Homo sapiens: one gene and its partners. The protein of the gene in region 1 interacts with the protein of each later gene in a pairwise test. Each region holds a gene or a part of one and is shown in the gene's direction. Other genes may lie near its edges.

Region 1 (9,995 bases):
GGGTTCAAGTGATTCTCCTGCCTCACCTTCCTGAGCAGCTTGGATTACAGGTGCCCGCCACCATGCTCAGCTAATTTTTTGTATTTTTAGTAGAGACGGGGCTTCACTATGTTGGCCAGGCCGGTCTCGAACTCCTGACCTGATAATCCCCCCACCTTGGCCTCCCAAAGTACCAAAATTACAGGCATGAGCCACCCCTCCTGGCCATTTTTAGGGGATTTTTAAAGAATATTTTTGATCTGTCATTGGTTGAATCTGTTGATGCAGAACCCATGGATACAGAGGGCCAACTGTAGATAAATGGAACAAAATAAAGATGCCAGAATTAGATCCATACAAATACAGTCAACTGATCATTGACAAAGGAGCAAATAATTCAATGGAGAAACAATGGTCTTTTCAACAAACGGTGCTGGAATAACTGGACATTCATATGCAAAAAACAATCTAGACACAGACCTTATATCTTTCACAAAAATTTACTCAAAATGGATCATAGACCTAAATGCAAAACACAAAACTGTAAAACTTCTGGAAGATAACATAGGAGAAAATCTAGGTGAACTTGTGTTTGGTGATGACTTTTTGGGTACAATGCTAAAAGCACGATCCCTGAAAAAAACTGAACAGTCGAAATTTTTTCATTACAAATGTCTGCTCAATGAAAGACATTGTTAAATGAATGAAAAGACAAGCCACTGTCTGGGAGAAAATATCTGCAAAATACATAATCTGATAAAGGGCTGATATCTAAAATATATAAAGAACACTGAAAAATCATCAATAAAAAAAACCCAATGGGTAACAGATCTGAGCAGACACCTTATCAAAGAAGATACATACGTGACAAACAAGCATAAGATGCCCAATGCCATATGTCATTAGGAAATTGCAAACTAAAACAATAAGATTCTACTATGCACCTATTAAAATACCCAAAATTCAAAATACTGGCAACACCAAATGTTGGCAAGGATGTGGAGTAACAGGAAGTCTCACTCATTGCTGGTGAAAATGCAAACTGTTACAGCCACTTTGGAAGATCATCTGGTAATTTTTGATAAAGCAAAACATAGTCTTACCATATGATCCAGCAATCATGCTCCTTGGTATTTACCTAAATGAGTTGAAAACTTATGTCCATACAAAAATCTGTACAAGAAAGTTTACAGGAGCCTTATTCATAATTTTAAAAGACTGAAAGCAACCAAGATGTCTTTCAATAAATAAATGGATAAACAAACCATGGTATATACATACAGTGGAATACTGTGCACAATAAAAGAAAATAAACTATCAAGCCATGAAAAGACACAGAGGAATGTTAAATGTATATTGCTAAGTAAAAAAAAAAAAGCAGTATGAAAAGACTACATACTATATGATTCCAACTCTATGACATTACGGAAAAGGCAAAATTCTGCAGAAAGTAAAAACATCAGTGATTGCCAAGGGTTGGTTGCAGGTAGACCAGATGAATAGGTGGAACACAAGGAATTTTTTAATGCAGTGTAATTGTTCTGCTGACACTGTAATGGTGGATATGTTATGCTTTTTTCAAAACCCACAGAGCTATGCAACACAAAGAGTGAATCTTAATGTAAACTATAGACTTTAGTTAGTAATAATGCATCAGTTGTAATAAATGTACAATGCGAATGCAAGATGTTAATAACAGGAGGAACTGTAGGGGAGGAGGGAGATTAGGAAGTACATAGAAACTCTCTCCACTATCTGCTTAATTTTTCCATAAATGTAAAACTGTTCTAAAAAATAAAGCCAATTAATTATTCTTTTTCTAATATCTCATTTGAATGAGAGGTCATGGTTAAAGGAAATTGTCAGAGAAAGTGTCAAGAAAGAAGTGTGACTTTAGCTGGGTCCTGAAGGGTACATAAGATTTGAGAGTCGGAAAGGGCAGAAGGCATTTCAGCTGGGTTTGAGCCATGGAAAAGACTCAGAGGGCTCAAATTGCGAAGGAGCAGGAAATAGCACAGAATAAATCAATGCAAAGACAACAGGCAGCAATTTAATGGAAACCAAGGGCCAAGGCAGGGCTAGAAACACTGAAGCATCATTCCAATATCAGATAAATATAGGCATGAGAGCTGACTCAACCTCGGCCGGGTCCTCAACACATATTCGTTCATTCATGTAATATTTAGTAAACATTCACTATGTTCCAGACACTGTGGTAGGCACTGGGGACAAGCAGTGAATAAAACAAATGGAAATCTTTGTTCTCACTGAGCTTACACTCTAGTGAGGGGAGAGAGACAGAACCTGTCTGCTATTTTCAAGAAACAACAAAGAAAACATTATGGCTGGAATGAGAAACAATGGCCTTTTCAATAAACAGTGCTGGAATAACTGGACATTCATATGCAAAAAATAATCTAGATACAGACCTTATATCTTTTGAAAAAAATTTACTCAAAATGGATCATAGACCTAAATGCAAAACACAAAACTGTAAAACTTCTGAAAGATAACATAGGAGAAAATCTAGGTGAACTAGATAGATTTCATGCACTGGAATGAAGTGAAGGGGGAAAGTAGAAGGTGAGATAGCGGAGATAACAGAAGTCAGAGTATATAGGGCACTGAAGCCAGAATAAATAATGACTCTGGCTTTTACTCTGAGAGATGTAGGGAGTCACTGGGGGATTGTGAGTGGCAGAGTGACTTGATTGACACCTCAACAGGGTCATTCTGTCTTCTGTGCTGAGAACTGTCAGAGAGGGTACAACAGTGGACAGTGACTGCAGGGATACCAGCGAAGAAGTTGCTGCCATAATGCAGGTAAGAGAATGGAAGCTTGGACTATGGTTTTAGCTGAGCAAATGATCAGAAACAGAGTCTGGATTCTACAATGATTTGCTGATGGATCTGATGTGTGAAAGAGGGTCAAAATGTCTCAGTTTTAGGCTTGAGCAACGAACTGGAAGGCAGGAGCTGCCTGTAACGAGAGACAGGAGAGAAAGAGAGAGAGAGAGAGAGGACTTTGGAAGAGCAGGCTCATGATCAGGCCTGAGCTCAGTGTCTGAATTCAGGTAAGCTATCTTGAAAGGGGAAATATCAAAAGCTAGAGATCAGAGTAAGGCTGAGACTCAGAGTCAAGTGGGGAAGACTAAGTTGCAGTATGTACTGGCAGTGAAGATAAGTATTTATTCATTCATTGAACATACCTTGAAATCAACCACTTTTAATGTGCCAGGGACACAAAGATAGAAAAGACATTTGCCCTGTCTGGAAGGTACTAATAATCCAATAAGGAAAACAGAAATATAAATAAATTATTCTAGTACACTAACCATCATAGTAGAGGTATTCAACATTTGTTGAGTCTCTGCTATATGCCAAGCAGTGTAATGAGGAAGCAGAGGGTATGCACAAAGTTCTACAAGAGCACAAAATAAGTTCTGGCAAAGGTTTGTAAAGACATTCACAAGGGTTTTCACCACAGTATGACTTCAGGGAGTTGGCAGTAACCTAGATGCCCGATCAGTAGGGATATGTATGAATAAAATTTCTGGCATACTCGGTAGCAAACTAGGTGTACACACAGCAATGTGGGTATAGCTCAAAAACAGACTGTTGAGTAAAACAGTGGGAAATAGAGATTTACAGTCCAATACCATCTCTGTAAATGCAAGAGGCATAAACAAAACATTATCTGTGTTAAATTATCAAGGATCTCTATCGAACATATTGCAGCTTGTGTCTAGAAGAATGAGAGTGGGGATCGAGAAAGATGAGGAAAAAATAATATAAACACTATAAAATAATGTAAACAAGGACCCTGTAGGGACTGATATGACAATGTGCTGAAAATTGAGGAGCAAAGTTAACTCTCTGTACCTGAGATAAAATAACTAGCTAATAGGAATCCAGCTGAAAACCTTAAGGTGCAGGGCCTCTATGGGGCCCAGGAAGGATGTGTAGAGACATGAACGGATGAAAGTGCATCACAGGTTCAGGGAACAACACAGGTTGAGTGTGGCTTGTAGTAAAAATGGTTGTGAAGAGTTGACATATTTTTAAGCCCTGGGTAAATTGAACAACAGCTTACACTTGGAGGGGTATAATCATTCTAATCAATGTGTCCCCTTTTACTATAATACATTGGAGTTGCAGCTAATGCTCTGCTCCCATTCAGCCTATGATGAGATTCTCTTTCAGCCCTATTGGGTTCTTGGCCTCATGTGACTACTCCAAAGACCCTAGTCCAAAAGGTCTTTCCTGTTTGCTATGGCCTTGAGGAATGTGGCCCTAGATCCACCGCTTTAAAGCTGGAGTTCCACCAGCAGCAACATCCTCTCATTCTGGGGCACCTGCCTGGGGCAGGTCATCCTGCCTCTGCCAACTCAGTGCTATTAGTTAACTCTCACCTGCCATATTCCAGCTGGAATCATCTCCCCTTCTCCACCCCAGACTAGGTCATGTTCCGCCATCATGGAAGCGCCTATTCTTCATACCCCTTATCACAGCTGCAACTACTCATTTACTTGTCTGACAATTTGATTTATGTCCACCTACTTTGCTAGGTACTAAGTTCAATGCTGGCAGTCGTTTCTTCTTTTTTTTTCTTTTCTGTTTTGCTCACCGATTTCTCGTTAGCACTTAGCACAGTGTCTGGCACACGATAGATGCTCCGTCAACTTCTCAGTTGGATACCAGCATCCCGAAGGGAACATGGATTAAGGCAGCTATAAGCACGGTGTAAAAACAGGAATAAGAAAAAGTTGAGGTTTGTTTCACAGTGGAATGTAAAGGGTTGCAAGGAGGTGCATCGGCCCCTGTGGACAGGACGCATGACTGCTACACACGTGTTCACCCCACCCTCTGGCACAGGGTGCACATACAGTAGGGGCAGAAATGAACCTCAAGTGCTTAACACAATTTTTAAAAAATATATAGTCAAGTGAAAGTATGAAAATGAGTTGAGGAAAGGCGAGTACGTGGGTCAAAGCTGGGTCTGAGGAAAGGCTCACATTTTGAGATCCCGACTCAATCCATGTCCCTTAAAGGGCACAGGGTGTCTCCACAGGGCCGCCCAAAATCTGGTGAGAGAGGGCGTAGACGCCTCACCTTCTGCCTCTACGGGTCACAAAAGCCTGGGTCACCCTGGTTGCCACTGTTCCTAGTTCAAAGTCTTCTTCTGTCTAATCCTTCACCCCTATTCTCGCCTTCCACTCCACCTCCCGCTCAGTCAGACTGCGCTACTTTGAACCGGACCAAACCAAACCAAACCAAACCAAACCAAACCAGACCAGACACCCCCTCCCGCGGAATCCCAGAGAGGCCGAACTGGGATAACCGGATGCATTTGATTTCCCACGCCACTGAGTGCACCTCTGCAGAAATGGGCGTTCTGGCCCTCGCGAGGCAGTGCGACCTGTCACCGCCCTTCAGCCTTCCCGCCCTCCACCAAGCCCGCGCACGCCCGGCCCGCGCGTCTGTCTTTCGACCCGGCACCCCGGCCGGTTCCCAGCAGCGCGCATGCGCGCGCTCCCAGGCCACTTGAAGAGAGAGGGCGGGGCCGAGGGGCTGAGCCCGCGGGGGGAGGGAACAGCGTTGATCACGTGACGTGGTTTCAGTGTTTACACCCGCAGCGGGCCGGGGGTTCGGCCTCAGTCAGGCGCTCAGCTCCGTTTCGGTTTCACTTCCGGTGGAGGGCCGCCTCTGAGCGGGCGGCGGGCCGACGGCGAGCGCGGGCGGCGGCGGTGACGGAGGCGCCGCTGCCAGGGGGCGTGCGGCAGCGCGGCGGCGGCGGCGGCGGCGGCGGCGGCGGAGGCGGCGGCGGCGGCGGCGGCGGCGGCGGCTGGGCCTCGAGCGCCCGCAGCCCACCTCTCGGGGGCGGGCTCCCGGCGCTAGCAGGGCTGAAGAGAAGATGGAGGAGCTGGTGGTGGAAGTGCGGGGCTCCAATGGCGCTTTCTACAAGGTACTTGGCTCTAGGGCAGGCCCCATCTTCGCCCTTCCTTCCCTCCCTTTTCTTCTTGGTGTCGGCGGGAGGCAGGCCCGGGGCCCTCTTCCCGAGCACCGCGCCTGGGTGCCAGGGCACGCTCGGCGGGATGTTGTTGGGAGGGAAGGACTGGACTTGGGGCCTGTTGGAAGCCCCTCTCCGACTCCGAGAGGCCCTAGCGCCTATCGAAATGAGAGACCAGCGAGGAGAGGGTTCTCTTTCGGCGCCGAGCCCCGCCGGGGTGAGCTGGGGATGGGCGAGGGCCGGCGGCAGGTACTAGAGCCGGGCGGGAAGGGCCGAAATCGGCGCTAAGTGACGGCGATGGCTTATTCCCCCTTTCCTAAACATCATCTCCCAGCGGGATCCGGGCCTGTCGTGTGGGTAGTTGTGGAGGAGCGGGGGGCGCTTCAGCCGGGCCGCCTCCTGCAGCGCCAAGAGGGCTTCAGGTCTCCTTTGGCTTCTCTTTTCCGGTCTAGCATTGGGACTTCGGAGAGCTCCACTGTTCTGGGCGAGGGCTGTGAAGAAAGAGTAGTAAGAAGCGGTAGTCGGCACCAAATCACAATGGCAACTGATTTTTAGTGGCTTCTCTTTGTGGATTTCGGAGGAGATTTTAGATCCAAAAGTTTCAGGAAGACCCTAACATGGCCCAGCAGTGCATTGAAGAAGTTGATCATCGTGAATATTCGCGTCCCCCTTTTTGTTAAACGGGGTAAATTCAGGAATGCACATGCTTCAGCGTCTAAAACCATTAGCAGCGCTGCTACTTAAAAATTGTGTGTGTGTGTTTAAGTTTCCAAAGACCTAAATATATGCCATGAAACTTCAGGTAATTAACTGAGAGTATATTATTACTAGGGCATTTTTTTTTTAACTGAGCGAAAATATTTTTGTGCCCCTAAGAACTTGACCACATTTCCTTTGAATTTGTGGTGTTGCAGTGGACTGAATTGTTGAGGCTTTATATAGGCATTCATGGGTTTACTGTGCTTTTTAAAGTTACACCATTGCAGATCAACTAACACCTTTCAGTTTTAAAAGGAAGATTTACAAATTTGATGTAGCAGTAGTGCGTTTGTTGGTATGTAGGTGCTGTATAAATTCATCTATAAATTCTCATTTCCTTTTGAATGTCTATAACCTCTTTCAATAATATCCCACCTTACTACAGTATTTTGGCAATAGAAGGTGCGTGTGGAAGGAAGGCTGGAAAATAGCTATTAGCAGTGTCCAACACAATTCTTAAATGTATTGTAGAATGGCTTGAATGTTTCAGACAGGACACGTTTGGCTATAGGAAAATAAACAATTGACTTTATTCTGTGTTTACCAATTTTATGAAGACATTTGGAGATCAGTATATTTCATAAATGAGTAAAGTATGTAAACTGTTCCATACTTTGAGCACAAAGATAAAGCCTTTTGCTGTAAAAGGAGGCAAAAGGTAACCCCGCGTTTATGTTCTTAACAGTCTCATGAATATGAAATTGTTTCAGTTGACTCTGCAGTCAAAATTTTAATTTCATTGATTTTATTGATCCATAATTTCTTCTGGTGAGTTTGCGTAGAATCGTTCACGGTCCTAGATTAGTGGTTTTGGTCACTAGATTTCTGGCACTAATAACTATAATACATATACATATATATGTGTGAGTAACGGCTAATGGTTAGGCAAGATTTTGATTGACCTGTGATATAAACTTAGATTGGATGCCACTAAAGTTTGCTTATCACAGAGGGCAAGTAGCACATTATGGCCTTGAAGTACTTATTGTTCTCTTCCAGCAACTTATGATTTGCTCCAGTGATTTTGCTTGCACACTGACTGGAATATAAGAAATGCCTTCTATTTTTGCTATTAATTCCCTCCTTTTTTGTTTTGTTTTGTAACGAAGTTGTTTAACTTGAAGGTGAATGAAGAATAGGTTGGTTGCCCCTTAGTTCCCTGAGGAGAAATGTTAATACTTGAACAAGTGTGTGTCAGACAAATTGCTGTTATGTTTATTTAATTAAGTTTGATTTCTAAGAAAATCTCAAATGGTCTGCACTGATGGAAGAACAGTTTCTGTAACAAAAAAGCTTGAAATTTTTATATGACTTATAATACTGCTGTGAGTTTTAAAAGTAAAGCAAAAGTAAACTGAGTTGCTTGTCCAGTGGGATGGACAGGAAAGATGTGAAATAAAAACCAATGAAAAATGAACTGCTGTGGAGAAGTGTTACATTTATGGAAAAAGAAATAGGAACCTTGTTCATCAAATTGATAGAAAAGCTTTTAAAACTAAACAAATCAAACAACTTGAGTATAATGGAATTCAGACTTTGATTTGCCTAACATAACCACCATATTTGCAAGGACAGCTCTCTATCTTCTGGTGTTTATTCTTAAAAACTTAAAAGTTAGATTTAGCGATCACCAGAGCCACTACTTTTATGCTTAGGTATTTGTTTGACTTAGAAAAAATTGGTCACGTGTACCACTTTATAGTGCCCTGCAGGTGTTAAGATATGAAGGCACTTTGACTTACACCTCATAAAATCTTTACAAAGTATTTTCTAAATGAATAATGATGAAATAAAGTCTTTATTCTAGGTGCATCTGCCCCACATAATTTGTTTTCTTTGGACTAGAAGTTTTGATGTGTTGAGAATGGTAATGAATTAACTCCATTTTAAATGTAGAATGCGTATCACTCCAATATGAATGCCCTAATGAATCCTAAGATTTGTAGGTTTTGTGTACTAGTATGAAAATTACTAAAGATGGAAAAATCACATGTTGGAGACATAAGATACAAACCTTTTTGTTTTCTGAAAATACAACCTCTGATTTCTGATTCCTTGTTGTAATATGGTGTAATTATACTAGATTGTAATTTTGTTGTTAGATTATACTTTTTTAAGTTCAGTGTTTGAGGACAGACTTTCATTTGGTTAGTAGTATTATGGCAGCTAGCAGCTAAATATGATAAAGTGTACAATCAAAAGGATATTTTTAATGAAGATATTAGTGGTCTAACATGTCATTTCAGATACATAGCTGAAATGTAGTAAAATCAGTTTTACTACAAATAAACTTGCATAAGGTTTATAAATTTATAAGTTTATAAATCAACTTGGGTAAAGTGTAAATAAACTTGCACTCGTGGTTTCTCTGAAGTCTCCTGAGCTAACTTTGCATAAAGGTGTTATTCTGTACTTCGAGGAAGTGAATTATTGGGGTCAACCACATTTTTTTTCCTTCCTACAGTCTGATTGCCCTTTTTAGTTTTTAGGATCTTTGTGGCTGCATCATTTTTCCCCTTTTGAACTGTGCATTTTCTAACCCCATACTTAAATATTCTCATAACCTCCAAATTATTAATTAGATGCAACATTCAGTGGTATATTACTGGAGTTTCTGATTTCTGCCCACTATAGGAATGTGCTTCCTGAGAAGATTGGGATCGTGATTATAATAATAGTTAACAGGGGATGAGTACTTTCTAGGTGCCAGGCACTGTTCTCTCTGATACTTTATTTGATGTATTGTTGTTATTCCCATTCTTTAAATGATGCACAGAGAGGTTAGGTAAGTGACTTACTACCAAGTGTCAGGGCCATTAAGGGTCAGGATTCTGAATTCCTGAAATGATGAAATTTAGCTTGAAGAAATTGGTTTGATTTCCTGCTTAGTTTTCAATTTCATGGTGGTCTTTGATTGTATTTTGTGCTATAACACTGCCTTAGCATCCTATAACTATAGTTACAGTGTTATATTACCATTTTTTATTGTTAATACAAAGCCATCATGAAATAATTCAGTTTATGTGCCAGCTTTTTTTGTTACTAATTCTTGAACCTTGGCGCTGTACTTCTTCATGTGGATGCCTGTTAAGGAAAGATAAAGTTAGAAATCTTTGACCCTGCTAGGAAATTTGTCTTTGTTATATTGGGAGCTCATAAAACTGAAGTATTCAAAAGTTAGAATACATACACACAAGAAAAATTAGTAACTAATTTAATAATGTTTTCTTTGCACATGTCTCTGTTG
Region 2 (8,361 bases), on another chromosome or scaffold:
AAGCAAGTCCTTTATCCTCACAAGATCTCAGTTTTGCCATCCTAAAATCAGGAATTTTTTTTAAACATCCATGACCTGCTGAATAAAATCAGGAAATTGAATTAGATGCTCTCCAAGGGACCTCCATCCCTAGAATACCATATCTCTGCCTGGGCCCCCTGGGAGAGGAATGATCTCATAGCTGATGTCTGTGCGTGGTTATGAGGCTGTTCTGCTTGGTGCCTTCTTTCATCATCGGCTGTTTTCAAGGGACAAATATTCCCACAGTAGCCATGGATGATTCCACACTGCTGTGGTCACTCTCCATGAGTGACTAGGTAGAAGGCTTCTAGCCCAGGTGGGAGATACTAAGGTAGGAATCATGATAATGATAGTAAGAACAACAACAATAACAGCAGCTAACACTTACTGAGGACTTACTTTAAGCTATGTACTATGCATAAAGTACATTATGTTATTTCATCTAAATGCCAACCTTATGAGGTAGACACTGTTAATAGAGCTGTTTTATAGTCCATTAAAGTTAGGCCTAGAGAGATGATTTTCCTGAAGTCATACTTCCAGGATGTGGCAGAAACAATGCAAACACAGGACTCTCTGAATCCAGAGGGCAGTGATCTTGGGGAGCAGGGAGAGGGGACAGGAAAAGGGATATTACTTAGAGATTCAAGAGGTAGAGTCAGAATCAGCATGAATTAGTTATTAATTAGATTGGGGGTGTCAAGGATGAGCTTCTGGTCTCTGGTTTGGTGCTGGAGGGGGTGGATGTCATGCTCTCATTCATGGATAGTAGCAATGCAGTGGACTTCATGGAGGGCCATGTTGGATGAGTATGGGGTTTAAGAAGCAGTGGTGAGATAGGGAAGAGTGGGAGCTCTCAGCAGGCAGGACAGTCTGAGCCAGGGCCTAGGGTGAGTCTCACATGGAAGACCCTGAGCGCGGCCAGAAGGAACAGAGGGTTACCGCTAGGGAAGGTGGGGCTGCTTGGGGAGTATAGAGCTATGGCATGGGGTGGGGGATCCCTGGTGCCCAGGAGAGTTGGGACTTGCCAGTAATGGAGCCCTCAGAATGCACGATGTGCAGATGTACCACTTCTGCCTGAACAAAGCAACATATGCTGTATAAGCTATGCTGCTATCCTGGGCAGGGACACCCCTGAGGAAGGACCATGGTGCGCGCAGTCAGCAGACTGTAGAGACAGGAGGGTTTCAAGCAAGATTTCGAGCCACAGAGGGAAATAGTGGGATTTTGGCACAGACTCTGTGCTTTAGGAAGGAGAAGTACTCTGGGGTCCCAGGAAAGAGGGAAAGCAGCGTCTCTGAGAAGTTGTGCATAGCCCCAGATGGGGTAATAATCCCTTAGTCACTTGTCTGGAGCCTCCTTGACACCAGCAACTGTGTCTCATCCATTGTACCCCCAGCGCCTAGCCCAATCCTGTTCTCTTGAATTCACACCTCACCAACCCCATGAACATTCAGAGCTGGGGCAATGAATGATGCCCAACACCACAGACCATGCATGTGGTAAGGTTAGCCAGGGTCACAGAAGGACCTAGGGCTTCACCAGATGACCTCTGCATGGGTGCAGACTTTCCAGGTCATTCCATGTTGCCCCATAACACACTAACTCTGCCATGACCAGGTGGAATCTATAACGCCCCAGGAGCAGAGGCAGCAACCAGGAGACCTGGTGGAGTAGAAATGAGGAACTGCTCCTAAGCTGGGGAGACCTGCTGCTGCTGTTGCTGGCTGATAAGAGGCCCATAGAGAAGAAGCATGACCCTCCCATCCTCTCAGGTTCTATTTCCAGAGGTACTTGTGCTCAGCTTCATTCTCCTACTCTTCCTCCCCCATGATGCCAAGTAAGAGCTCAACCCAGCTGTTAATGGTAAGACATTATTTCTATGCAATGTGGGTAATTCTGATTAGCTGGGCAATCTGACATACAGGAGTGTGAAGGCAGGATTCAGGGCCTCTCAGGGCAGAAGGCTCTGATTACTTTGTTGAGAATCATCCACTACAACAAGGGATTCAGGATGAGAGAGGAGGCAAAGTGGTGTTTCCATAGCTGGAAGGGAACTTTGACCTTGGGAACCATCGGAGGGAAACATGGGCTAAAGTGCAGGCAATGTGCATGATACCCAGGAGGAGCTAGCAATCCCTTGGGTCTGGTATGTATGGAGGGGGAGACTTGCTGGTCCAGCTCAGCACTGGTTTTGCTGGGATGCAGATTCAGTGTGAGAAGAAGCTGTGCCCTAGTTCACTTGAAGCCACACTTCTCCAGCCCTGTGTACAGGCTGCATTAGTGAGGATGAGCCAGGACTGCCCCAGCCAGAGCCTAATGGTAGACAGGTTTCTTAGTAGTAACCTCCCCATAAAGAAAACTCAATTCTGGAGTCTTCATAAATCATATGAAGGCAAAACACTGGCTGTGGAGGCAAAACACTGGCCCTGGTGCCTGGAAACCACTGGCTTTGCGATGCTGCCTCTGGAAACCTACCTCCACTCATCCTTCTCTCCATCTAGGGGTGGACCTGATCCTGTTTGTGGTCCCAGGTGGCATGGACCAAGACATGGTGGAGCTGGTGCCTTGTGTGCTTTAATCCTGCATGGTCATGGTATCTCAGCCTCAGCAGGTGTTACTGAAGTGATATTTACCACTATCTTCCATGTGAAGAGTTTTGGAGCATTGGAGAGTGGGAGAACTCCAAGAGTGATGTTCCCAAGTCTTAGAGTCTCAGGAGTAAGGTTTCCTTATGAGGATCCAGATCTCTGAAACCAATAACATACATGGCATTGGGTTAGGATAGCAGCATCTTTGTCACCTAATGACTGCTGGAAGTCGACCTCTCTGTGTGGTGCTGATACAGTACCTAGAAAAACAGCATCCCGTGGACACTTCAGAGTGAAGAGGAGAAGAGAGAAGGTCCCCAGGGGCTCACCAGGGCTGAGTCCAGGTAGTCACACTTCCACATCCCACCTCCCCAACCCGTCTACCATCAGAGAAGGCTGGTTGGTTCTTGTGTTTTTGTCTTGCTGTCAGAAAGAGCCAGGGTGAGCCCATGGAGGGAAATGTGAGGGATTTCGAAGGCAGGGTGTAGCCACGATTAACTGGGGGAGTGATAGTTGGTACGGAGCACCAGATGAAATGACTAAGGGCCCCTCTGGGTTAAGAGCAGGACATGGTTCCATCACTGTGATCCAGAACCTCCTATTCTTGGATCAAAATGTTTCCAGCATCCTGGGTTCTTGTAATCTCCCAGGATAGGAATCAAGAGAGATCACCAGACACAGCAGCATAGAGAAAGTTTATTTTAGCTTGTGCACAAGGAAGCTGGCACTGAAGAAGAAAAGAATGGGCTGCTCCTTGAGGGCAGTAGTGTGTGGGTTAGTTTTATAAAGGCTTTCTATGGGGAAGGGTTACATTGGGGCAGGTGTAGGAGAGTTTTTCTAGTGCTTGCACAGTGGCTCAACATGCTTCTTCATATATTATATGTAGCATTAGCATTTTAAATCACCACCCCAGGGGTGATTTTTAGCATTAAAATGAAGAAGGGGTAACTATAGGTTGGAGTTTAAATGTAACTGCACATTTGGGTCTCCAAGGAAGTCCCTAGACCCCCGAAATAGGAGCTTATGGTTATAGCAGTTATAGCTTCTTGGGTCTTCTGTTACTGATTGGCTGGGAGTTAGATAAGCAAGAGCCTGACTGAGGGGCTTTTTTTTTTTTTTTTTTTTTTGAGACAGAATCTCGCTCTATCCCCCAGGCTGGAGTGCAGTGGCATGATCTTGGCTCGCTGCAACGTTTGCCTTCCAGGTTCAAGCGATTCTCATGCCTCAGCCTCCCGAGTAGCTGGGATTACAGGCACCCACCACGACGCCCAGCTAATTTTTGTATTTTTAGTAGAGACGGGGTTTCACCATGTTGGCCAGGCTGGTCTTGAACTCCTGACCTCAGGTGATCTGCCCACCTCAGCCTCCTAAAGTGCTGAGATTACAGGTGTGAGCCACTGTGTGGGGCCGACTGAGGGGCTTTTATCATTTTCCTCCAGACCATCTTAACATAGGAACCTAGCTAGCCTGCCTGTCTCAAATCCTTCCTAAATGGGCCAGATGTAGAACTGTGTTGGCACCTCTGCTTTCCTCATCATTACTCCTAGCCTTTTCCTGTGCTTGCAGGACAAAACTTGGAGGGCACTGGGGCAGGCAGTGAGCAGAGCCTGGCTGGTTGTCCCCAGGAAGGAAGGGGGAGGTCCAGGCCATAAGGGCAAGGTGTCATCTCTGACCAGAGACAGAGTTCTTCTCTGAGGACGCAGGGCAGAGTTCTTCTTCCCGAGGCCATGGGTAACTTGGCCTCCACAAATAAAGGCTGAGGAAGAGGGATGAAACTGGAGGCTTACAGCAGGAATGTCCAGGGAGGGCAGAGGGAAGGGCAGGCAGTCAGTTCAGGACATCACAGACATTCATGGCCAGAGTGTAGAGAGGCTGAAGAAGGTGGGTTTTCTGGAAGACTGTCCCAACCTCTCACGGGCCAGCTGGGCATCCAGGCATCTTCTACCTTACAAGGTAGACCAGCAGAATAGGCACCATTTAGAGATTTAGAAATGCAGTTTTCCAGACCTCACTCTAGACTTTCTGACTCTACGTTTAACCAGAACCCCAAGGCGACGTGTGTGCAGGAAAGTTTGAGAAACCTTATTGAGAGGAGGAGTTCTGGCAGGGCTGGTGGGAGGACACCCCACTAACAGGCAGCATGCAGGGGCTGCCGTGGAGGTGACGTCACACCACATGGTGAGTTGGGGAAAGAGAGAGGCAATGAGCTCCATCTGGCAGTGCTGAGTTTGAGGGGGCTGCTGGAGGGGGCTGCTCAAGACAGCAGCTGCACCTCTGAGCCTCTGCCTCTGCATGGGGCACAGGTTAGAGCCAGAGACATGGATTTGGAGCCCTCAGAAAAGACGGGGACATAGAAGCTGTGAGACTGGATGAGATCACCTAGAGCAAGTGGAGAGTGGGAAGAGGGCCTAGAATGGAGGTTAAGGGGATGCCTGCATATAAAGAGCAGCCAAGGGGAGGAACTTGGCAGAGATTTCAGCAGTCAGTGGCCTAGGGGAAATCCCAGCTGAGCCGGGGGACACAGAAGGGTCAATAGGATTGAATGGCATGGAGCAGTCAGGAGAGCACCAGACAGGGTCCATGAATTTCCAAATTAGGCCATGAGAAAATGTTATATTAAAAGGGCAATCAAAAGTGGAGATAGGCCAGGCGCATTGGCTCACACCTGTAATCCCAACATTTTGGGAGACCAAGGCGGGAGGATTGCTTAAGCAGGAGTTTGAGACCAGCCTGGGCAACATAGTGAGACCGTGTCTCTACAAAAATTACAAAAATTAGCCAGGCGTGGTGGTGCATGCCTGTGATCCCATCTGCTCAGGAGGCTGAGGTGGGAGGATTGTTTGAGCCCAGAAGGTCAAGGCTGCAGTGAGCTGAGATTTCACCACTGTGCTCCAACCTGGGCAACAGAGCAAGACCCTGTCTCAAAAAAAAAAAAAAAAACAAAACAGTGGAGATAGTGGAAAGAAAACTTAATGCCTTTTTAAAAATATAGTTTGGGAAGTGGCTATTAAAAGGACAGTCTATCAGCAGAAGTGACAGTCTATCACTGCAGAAAGTTAAACAGAGCTGATAGGGGAAGCCGACGAACTTGTTGACTTCTGTTTTCTGTGTACAACTGTGGAACAAATAGGGAAGACAAACAGCTGGCTGCTAACTTTGATCACATAAATGGAAGTTAAGGAAAACTGGATCATAAAAGTGATGGATAAGGAAAAAACAGTGCTAAACCATATCTTAAAATATTTTGCTTATTTTTCTCAAAACATTATATATATATGTCATGTTAAAATAGTTTAATAATATTAGTTTTTTTAAAAAAAGACATTAGATTTACCACAATTTTTTAATGGGGGTAGGCATTAGGAACTGGATTGTGATGATGGCTGCACAATTTGGGGAATTTACTAAAAATCATTGAATTGTGCACTTAAAACATGAATTTTCTTCCTTTCGTTCTTTCTTCCTTTCTATCTTCTGACAGGGTCTTGCTCTGTCACCCAGGCTGGAGTGCAGTGGCAAGATAATAGCTCACTGCAGCCTCAATCTTCCAAGCTAAAGTGATCCTCCCACCTTAGCATCCCGAGTAGCTGGGACTGCAGGCACACACCACCACGCTGGGCTAGTTTTGTTTTTTGATTTTTAAATAGAGGTGAGGTTTCTTTTTGTTGCCCAGGCTGGTCTCGAACTCCTAAGCTCAAGTGGTCCTCCCACCTTTGCCTCCCAAAGTGCTTGGATAACGGGTGTCAGCCACTGTACCTGACCTGTAATATTTTTCTGTGCTTGGAAAGTCTTTTGTTGGTCATCTATGATACTTCTCTACAAAAATACAGATGTATAACTTGAGATGAAAGATTTTCTCTTGTTCTCCTGGGACCATACATCTCTGAATATTAAACTCTTTTTTTCTTTTGGATGAAGTTACCAATACAACTTTTAATCACATGTAAGCAAAATAACATAAACATATTACAAATTTTGGTAAATAATAATAATTATTATTGTTATTTTTGAGATGGAGTCTCGCTCTGTCGCCCAGGCTGGAGTGCAGTGGCGTGATCTTGGCTCACTGCAACCTCCGCCTCCCAGGTTCACGCCATTCTCCTGCCTCAGCCTCCCAAGTAGCTGGGACTACAGGCGCCCGCCACCACGCCCGGCTAATTTTTTGTATTTTTAGTAGAGATGGGGTTTCACCGTGTTAGCCAGGACGGTTTCGATCTCCTGACCTCATGATCTGCCCGCCTCGGCCTCCCAAAGTGTTGGGATTACAGGCGTGAGCCACCACGCCTGGCCAATAATTGTTAAATGAAAAATAAAATGGAAATGCATCTCTTAATGAGGTAGATGGAGCTTTTTTAAAAAAAGTTTATTTGTGTATCCATTGATGAAAATTACATATTTTAGACTGCAACAGGAATTAGGGTCAATTGTCTTTCCGCTTTTCATTTTGTTGATGTAAGAACAGAGCAACCTTGCTTAGCTACGTAATCAAACATTGATGGAAATGAAAGTGTTTTATTATAGCAATGTCACTCACATTTTTGAACTCTTTCTGAAATGTGTTTCAAAAAGTACATAGTGATCTATCATGAAAAATTATTTTTAATCATATATTAGCTGACAATTTGATTAGATCCTCCTTCAACTTTATTGAAAGCAAAGAACTGGAAACCACTTAGCTTGAAAACAAATTTTTTCTTATGCATTCATTAATGTCATTCACCCTCCACCATTGATAGCAATACTTCAAATTGTCCTTCCATTTAGTCCCCTGGAGGTGTTTTTTTTTTTTTTTTTTTTTAATTACCAAGCAATGAAATCTTACAGTGCAATGAAATATTCAGGATAAGTGAGAGGTATAGTTTTACTTTTGTAATAAAGAGAAAAAGGACTATTGTGAAAAAAGAATCTACATGAAGCCTCAAATGCTAGTTCCTTCCCAGGCAGAGCAGCTCTGGGAAAGATTAAATATAAAGTTGAGCATCTGGGAGCTGATCCTCCTGAAGCTATCTATACCATGTACCCCTTGGAAAGTCTTCGCATACAGATTCCATAGCCTGAAGAGTGATGGTGGAAATGCCACCCTTTGATGGAGTCTGGAGAGGGAAAGGGGAGAAAGAGAGAATAGCAGCTAGCAGAGAAAGCTGGGTGGAAAGTTTATTTTTAGTCTGGGACAATGAACTAGTCATCTATTGTGGCATAACAAATTATTTCAAAACTTGACAGCTTAAAACAACAAATATTTATTCTCTTGAATCGTTTCTGAGGGTCAAGAACCTGAGAACAGTTCGTCTGGGTGATTGTGGCTCAGAGTCTCTCATGAGGCCTGGTGACCACTTTCCGTTGGTTCTCCTAATACGTCTTATGCCCGCAGCAATGCTGCCAACTTCTTCAGCTCACCTGCCAGCCAACCTTGGTTCACCTGTGTTTCCATATGTTTTTCTTGCTTTTACAGCCACTGGGGACCAGCTCTGGCCAGGACAATTCCGTTTGCCATGATGTGGGTTGAAATCACAACTTCTCCCGGGCGCAGTGGCTCACGCCTCTAATCCCAGCACTTTGGGAGGCCAAGGTGGGTGGATCACAAAGTCAGGAGTTTGAGACCAGCCTGGACAACATGGTGAAACCCCGTCTCTACTAAAAAATACAAAAATTAGCTGGATGTGGTTGCGGATGCCTGTAATCCCAGCTACTTGGGAGGCTGAGTCAGGAGAATCACTTGAAACCAGAAGGCGGTGGTTGAGTGAGCAGA
Region 3 (4,693 bases), on another chromosome or scaffold:
TTCCTTTAATAAATCATGTGACTTGGCCAATTACAGAAATTCCTAAGTGTAGTATTTTGAAATGTGGCCAGTGTCCCAGATTTGTAAGGTACAGTGTGCATACAGTGTGTCTTAGGATTTTTTTAAGTAAATTAAGGATGTTTACCAGAAATTATTGATTTACTGAACCAAGTATTTATTTTCAGAAGCCCACTTTTGGGGAAGGTTGCCTATATTTTTGATAGTAATTAGATGGAAGATTAAATCCTGTTTAACCTGGATAGAAACAGTTTTAACTATTGCTGAAGTTAAAATCACTTTGGGGTGGGGTGGGGTGGCTCATGCCTGTAATCCCAGTGCTGTGGGAGGCTGAGGCCAGAGGATTGCTCGAGGCCAGGAATTTGAGACCAGCTTGGGCAACATAGCAAGACCCTGTCTCTACAGATAATTGAAAAGTGAGCCAGATGTGGTGGCGCATTCCTATAGTCTCCGTCTCTCAGGAGGCTGAGGCAGGAGATTGCTTGAGCCCAGGAGTTGGAGGCTGCAGTGAGTTATGATCATACCACTGCACTCTAACCTGGGTGACAGAGTGAGACCCTGTCTCTAAAAAACAAAAAATTAGAAAACAACAAAAACCACTTCGGTTACTCACTGTCCTCATGCTTTGATGTCAGTTGTTCTCCTAAATTTTAAAATTTTGTTATGAAGATTGGATGTACACTGATTTGGCCCTTTAAATGACATTATACCAAGAAGTTGGTATAAGGGAGTAGGAGATGAGAAAACTTTTTGAAAAATCATTTGGTGCATGCTAAGGTAGCTTGTAGGACATGTGGTTTTAAAAAATTCATGGATTTTGAAGAAGGATAGGGTGGAAGTAAAATTTAGCTGATAGCATAGGGATCATTTGTGATTTATATAGAAAATAATTATATTTTTGAGTGAGAAGCATCAGACTTAAATTTTTTTCTTCTATTTTGGTTATTACCAAAAGGAACAGAGAAACTCTCAGAATTCTTTGAATCATAGAATGTTAGTGCTGGAAAGGACTAGGAAGTGACTTGTACAACCCCTTCATTTTACAAAGGATCAGAGAGAATTGGTTAGTAGAGTCCCAAATCTGCTTTTAGAAGTAATATGGTGATCATCAGTTTAGATTCACTGTAGGAAGGGCAGCCCTGTTAAAGTTTGTCAGGAGAAAAAGGGAAGGTATCACTTTTTGTATGTTCACCCAGTTGCTTCTGTAGTTTTCATACCCCTGTTTTCTCAATTTTCTTAGAACTGTCTTTAATGGCCCAGCTCTACCAGGGCTTGTTGTCTAAGGACATTAACTTGTGCTCCCCTCAGGGATGGGTTTACTACTAGCTGTCAGAAAGCTATTGGGTATCCTAATGTGTTAATAGCTGAAACTCAGCTGTAATTTCTCCTAAATACTTCAGCATTTTGCATTCTGTACATTGTGGTGCTTTTTCCACCTTGTATTGTTGTAACTGTAAGCTCCTAGGGGGCAGCAATTTGGTCTTAGGCGTGTACCCTGTTTAGTGCCTGGCAATGCCATGTTTATATCAAGGTCTTAATATTACTTTTGAGTTATTTCTCCCACTCTTCATGGAAGTGATGCTCCAGCCTTGCTAAAACACTGAGGGTCCTCCCGATAAGCCAGGCATTGTGATTCCTTGGCTTCAAGTGCCTTCTGTCTTCCCCGAAGGTCCACTGAGATCTACAATCCCCCCTTTCCTCTGATCTCTTGCCATGTAAGTAATTTTTTAAAAGATCAGTACAAGAGCTATATTTTTTCCTAAGAAAAAATTTCAACAGGAATGGGGAGTAGCCCCGTTTTGGGGCTGATCTGTCCAGAATTTGGAGTGAGGAACAAATCCATTCTCATCTACTTTCCACATTTTCCCTCTTGTTTGAGGTCCTGTTCCAACCTTCATTTCTGAAACTGTTCTAGAGCACTTTGTCTTTCTCGTAGTTCATAACTTACCCCTTCAGTCTAGAATTAGAATTACATTATCTGTTTTACTACTTTACTAGACTGTAAGCTCCTAGAAGATAAGGACTAGGGAGTTCATCTCTGTATTCCACCAGAAGGTACAGTGACTCATAACTAGAGTCTTTAGATGAAACTTACTGAGTTGAATAACTTAATATATTTCTGTTTTCATTCCCAAGGGAGGCCATGTCTGGAGATAGACCTTGAATTTAATAAATTTTAGGCACTATACCATTTCAGTGGAGAAAATTGTTGGGAAATTTGGGGGGATGGATATATAAGGGGGAGGAAGTCACTGGCCAGTTTGAGGTGCTTCCATTGGTCTGGGTAACTAGCCATTTCTTCCTGATTGTGCCTAGTATATCCCAGACAGTTTGTTTCTATGCAGAAGAATTTTATATGAAATTTTCATTTCTTTGCAAAAACTTGTTCCTTCTTTCAGTTCATGACATCATCCATGCTAAAGTCTGAGTCATCTGCTTCCATTTTTGTTATTCCCCACATCCAGTCTTCAGCTAAGTCCTGTCAGTTCTACCTCAAGTCTTTCCCGTCTTTCTTCCTCACCTATGTAATTTCAGTAGTCTCTCAGCTTCACTTAACCTCTTACTCCAGCCTACTTTATACACAATGTTAGATTCATCTTACTGAAACATAGTTCTGACCATGTATTCCATGTATGTGTTCTCTCTCCCCTATTAGACTGTAAGCTCCTTATGGGCAGGATCTGTGTCTGAGTCATCTTTGTATCTTGCCTAGCACCTATCAATAAATACTTCTTGAATGAACAAATGAATTCTCATTTCTCGACATAAAGCCTTGTCTAAAGTGAGATGTTTTCCAGGTCATACATAGGTTTCTCCCTGGGGTAATTGGAAGTTCTTGCATATAAAGTTGGTTAAATAGTAATAATTATGAGTTAACCACAGAAAATTTCAGAAAACTTTAATTTTTTTCCATTGGAATCAGCATGGATATGTGTATATGGATGGTTCAATAAATATACTTTTATATACATGTTTCACAGAAATTTTACATTCCATCTTCAAACTGCAGAAATAGATTTTTTTTTTTTACAAGCCAAAAAATAACTGCCATAACTTTTGTGACTTCATGCAAAAAAAGGGGGGAAGAGTAAGGGGCAAAAGGGAATTAGTTGTTCAAGGTTGAGTGTCCAGTAAGAAGTAAAAATGTTACATTAAGGAAGCGATTGCTTAACACGCTGCTTAAGGTGGTAGCCAGACAAATCCTTAACTGCAGCATTAAGGCCATACCAAGTTTATACATATATACAAAGAAATTTCCATATAAAAGACATACTATCACATTTTCTTCTTCATAAGGATGAGGAACTTTGTAATTCTGACCTGATTTTCCAGGCCAATTAATTAAAATGTCCCCAGGCTGCTTTTTAGAAGTATCTTCTACTTTGGCTAGCTGTCAGAGTTGCCGCTATGTGAGCTTGTGACTTCTGGTCTGGCGTGAAAGTATGAATCATCTTGAACCTCTTCCATCATAGCACTATGTTGCTGAGCTAATTCATGCTGCCCAGCTAAGCACATTTTCTACATCCCCAAAGTATTTGGAATCACAGCATTGTAACTTGTGATTGTCTTACCTGTAACAGACTCCACAGTCATGCTGGCATTGTGACCTGAAGAATTACACAGTGCCCTTCTTAGATTCTTTGGGGTTAAGGTAACTTCTTGAATAATGTACTAATGAACGATAGTGTTTCAGGAAACATGCCCTAGCTATTGGAAGTTCGTATCTAACTTTTACCCCTTGTGTGTCATGATACATTTAAGTTGGTAGCTACATTTTTGGAATAAAGGAAATGTAAAATTATTTGCAGAATAATAACCTGGGATTTGCTCTTCTGCCTAAACATCGAACTAGGGAACTTTAAAGACAAAGGGTGCATCTTTTGTGCAAGTATCTAAGCGGGCAAAATGGGGAAAACATGAAGGGCAAGTCCTTTGGGGATGACTTCTAATTAATGCAGAAGTCATTTGCTTTGGCCAGGTTGGGTGGGACTCTGAGATTGCACACTCTTGCCCTGTTGGCAGAAACTAGCCCATCTTAAGTTAGTCAATGAATCCTGAGTCAAAATGAAAGGTTGCTAAATCTAAGATCGAGTGTATAAATAAAATAACCCCTTCCTCCAGTGACTGTGCATTTATTTTGTAATAAACTCATTTTGGAATGTTTTAGCAATGAATTGGTATCTCTCTGTTGTCCTGTTCATCGCCAGTTTTCAAGTATGGCTCCAGTGTGTTCACAGCTATGGCTGCAAGGTAATTTGGTCTCTTTCTATAGCTTCCCTAGGCCAGTCAAGTTTGAGAATAAGGTCTCCGTAAGTGGCCTGTCCTGGGAGAGAGGACCAAGTGATTTGTGATTTGGAAGCACTGTGGTATGTTTGAACACTTGCCAAGTTAACAGTCACTGAGTATTCTAATCATGCACCAGCCACTCTTCACCCTAAATGTACTACAAGTTATTCATTGCAGTAACTTGCATCAATTCTAGATAAGGTGATTTTTATTCAACAGGTCTACTGTGATGCTGATCTAGACAATGAGAGTGGAATAGCCTTTGGCAGTCTTGGAATATCAAGAGGGCTTAAAAGTATTAGGTTTTTGTTTTGGTCATTTTGTGTTTCACTTTGTCCATTTCAAGTCCAAAGCAGTTGAAGACATGTTTTATCCAGTTTGTCAGATG

Evidence for each region. Proteins that work in one complex are often made in the same cells at the same time.
Region 2: the proteins of FMR1 (region 1) and FSD2 interact in binary tests that used the Homo sapiens proteins (3 or more experiments, as listed by UniProt).
Region 3: the proteins of FMR1 (region 1) and G3BP1 interact in binary tests that used the Homo sapiens proteins (3 or more experiments, as listed by UniProt).

What each region holds. Positions count from the first base shown.
Region 1 is NC_000023.11:147,906,287-147,916,281, forward strand, and holds the start of FMR1 (fragile X messenger ribonucleoprotein 1), read left to right. Parts: upstream 1-5,632; 5' UTR 5,633-5,893; coding exon 5,894-5,944; intron 5,945-9,995.
Region 2 is NC_000015.10:82,796,070-82,804,430, reverse strand, and holds part of FSD2 (fibronectin type III and SPRY domain-containing protein 2), read left to right. Parts: intron 1-1,792; exon of another isoform or gene 1,793-1,887; intron 1,888-8,064; exon of another isoform or gene 8,065-8,181; intron 8,182-8,361.
Region 3 is NC_000005.10:151,808,593-151,813,285, forward strand, and holds the end of G3BP1 (ras GTPase-activating protein-binding protein 1), read left to right. Parts: 3' UTR 1-4,193; downstream 4,194-4,693. UniProt on the Homo sapiens protein: Protein involved in various processes, such as stress granule formation and innate immunity. Plays an essential role in stress granule formation.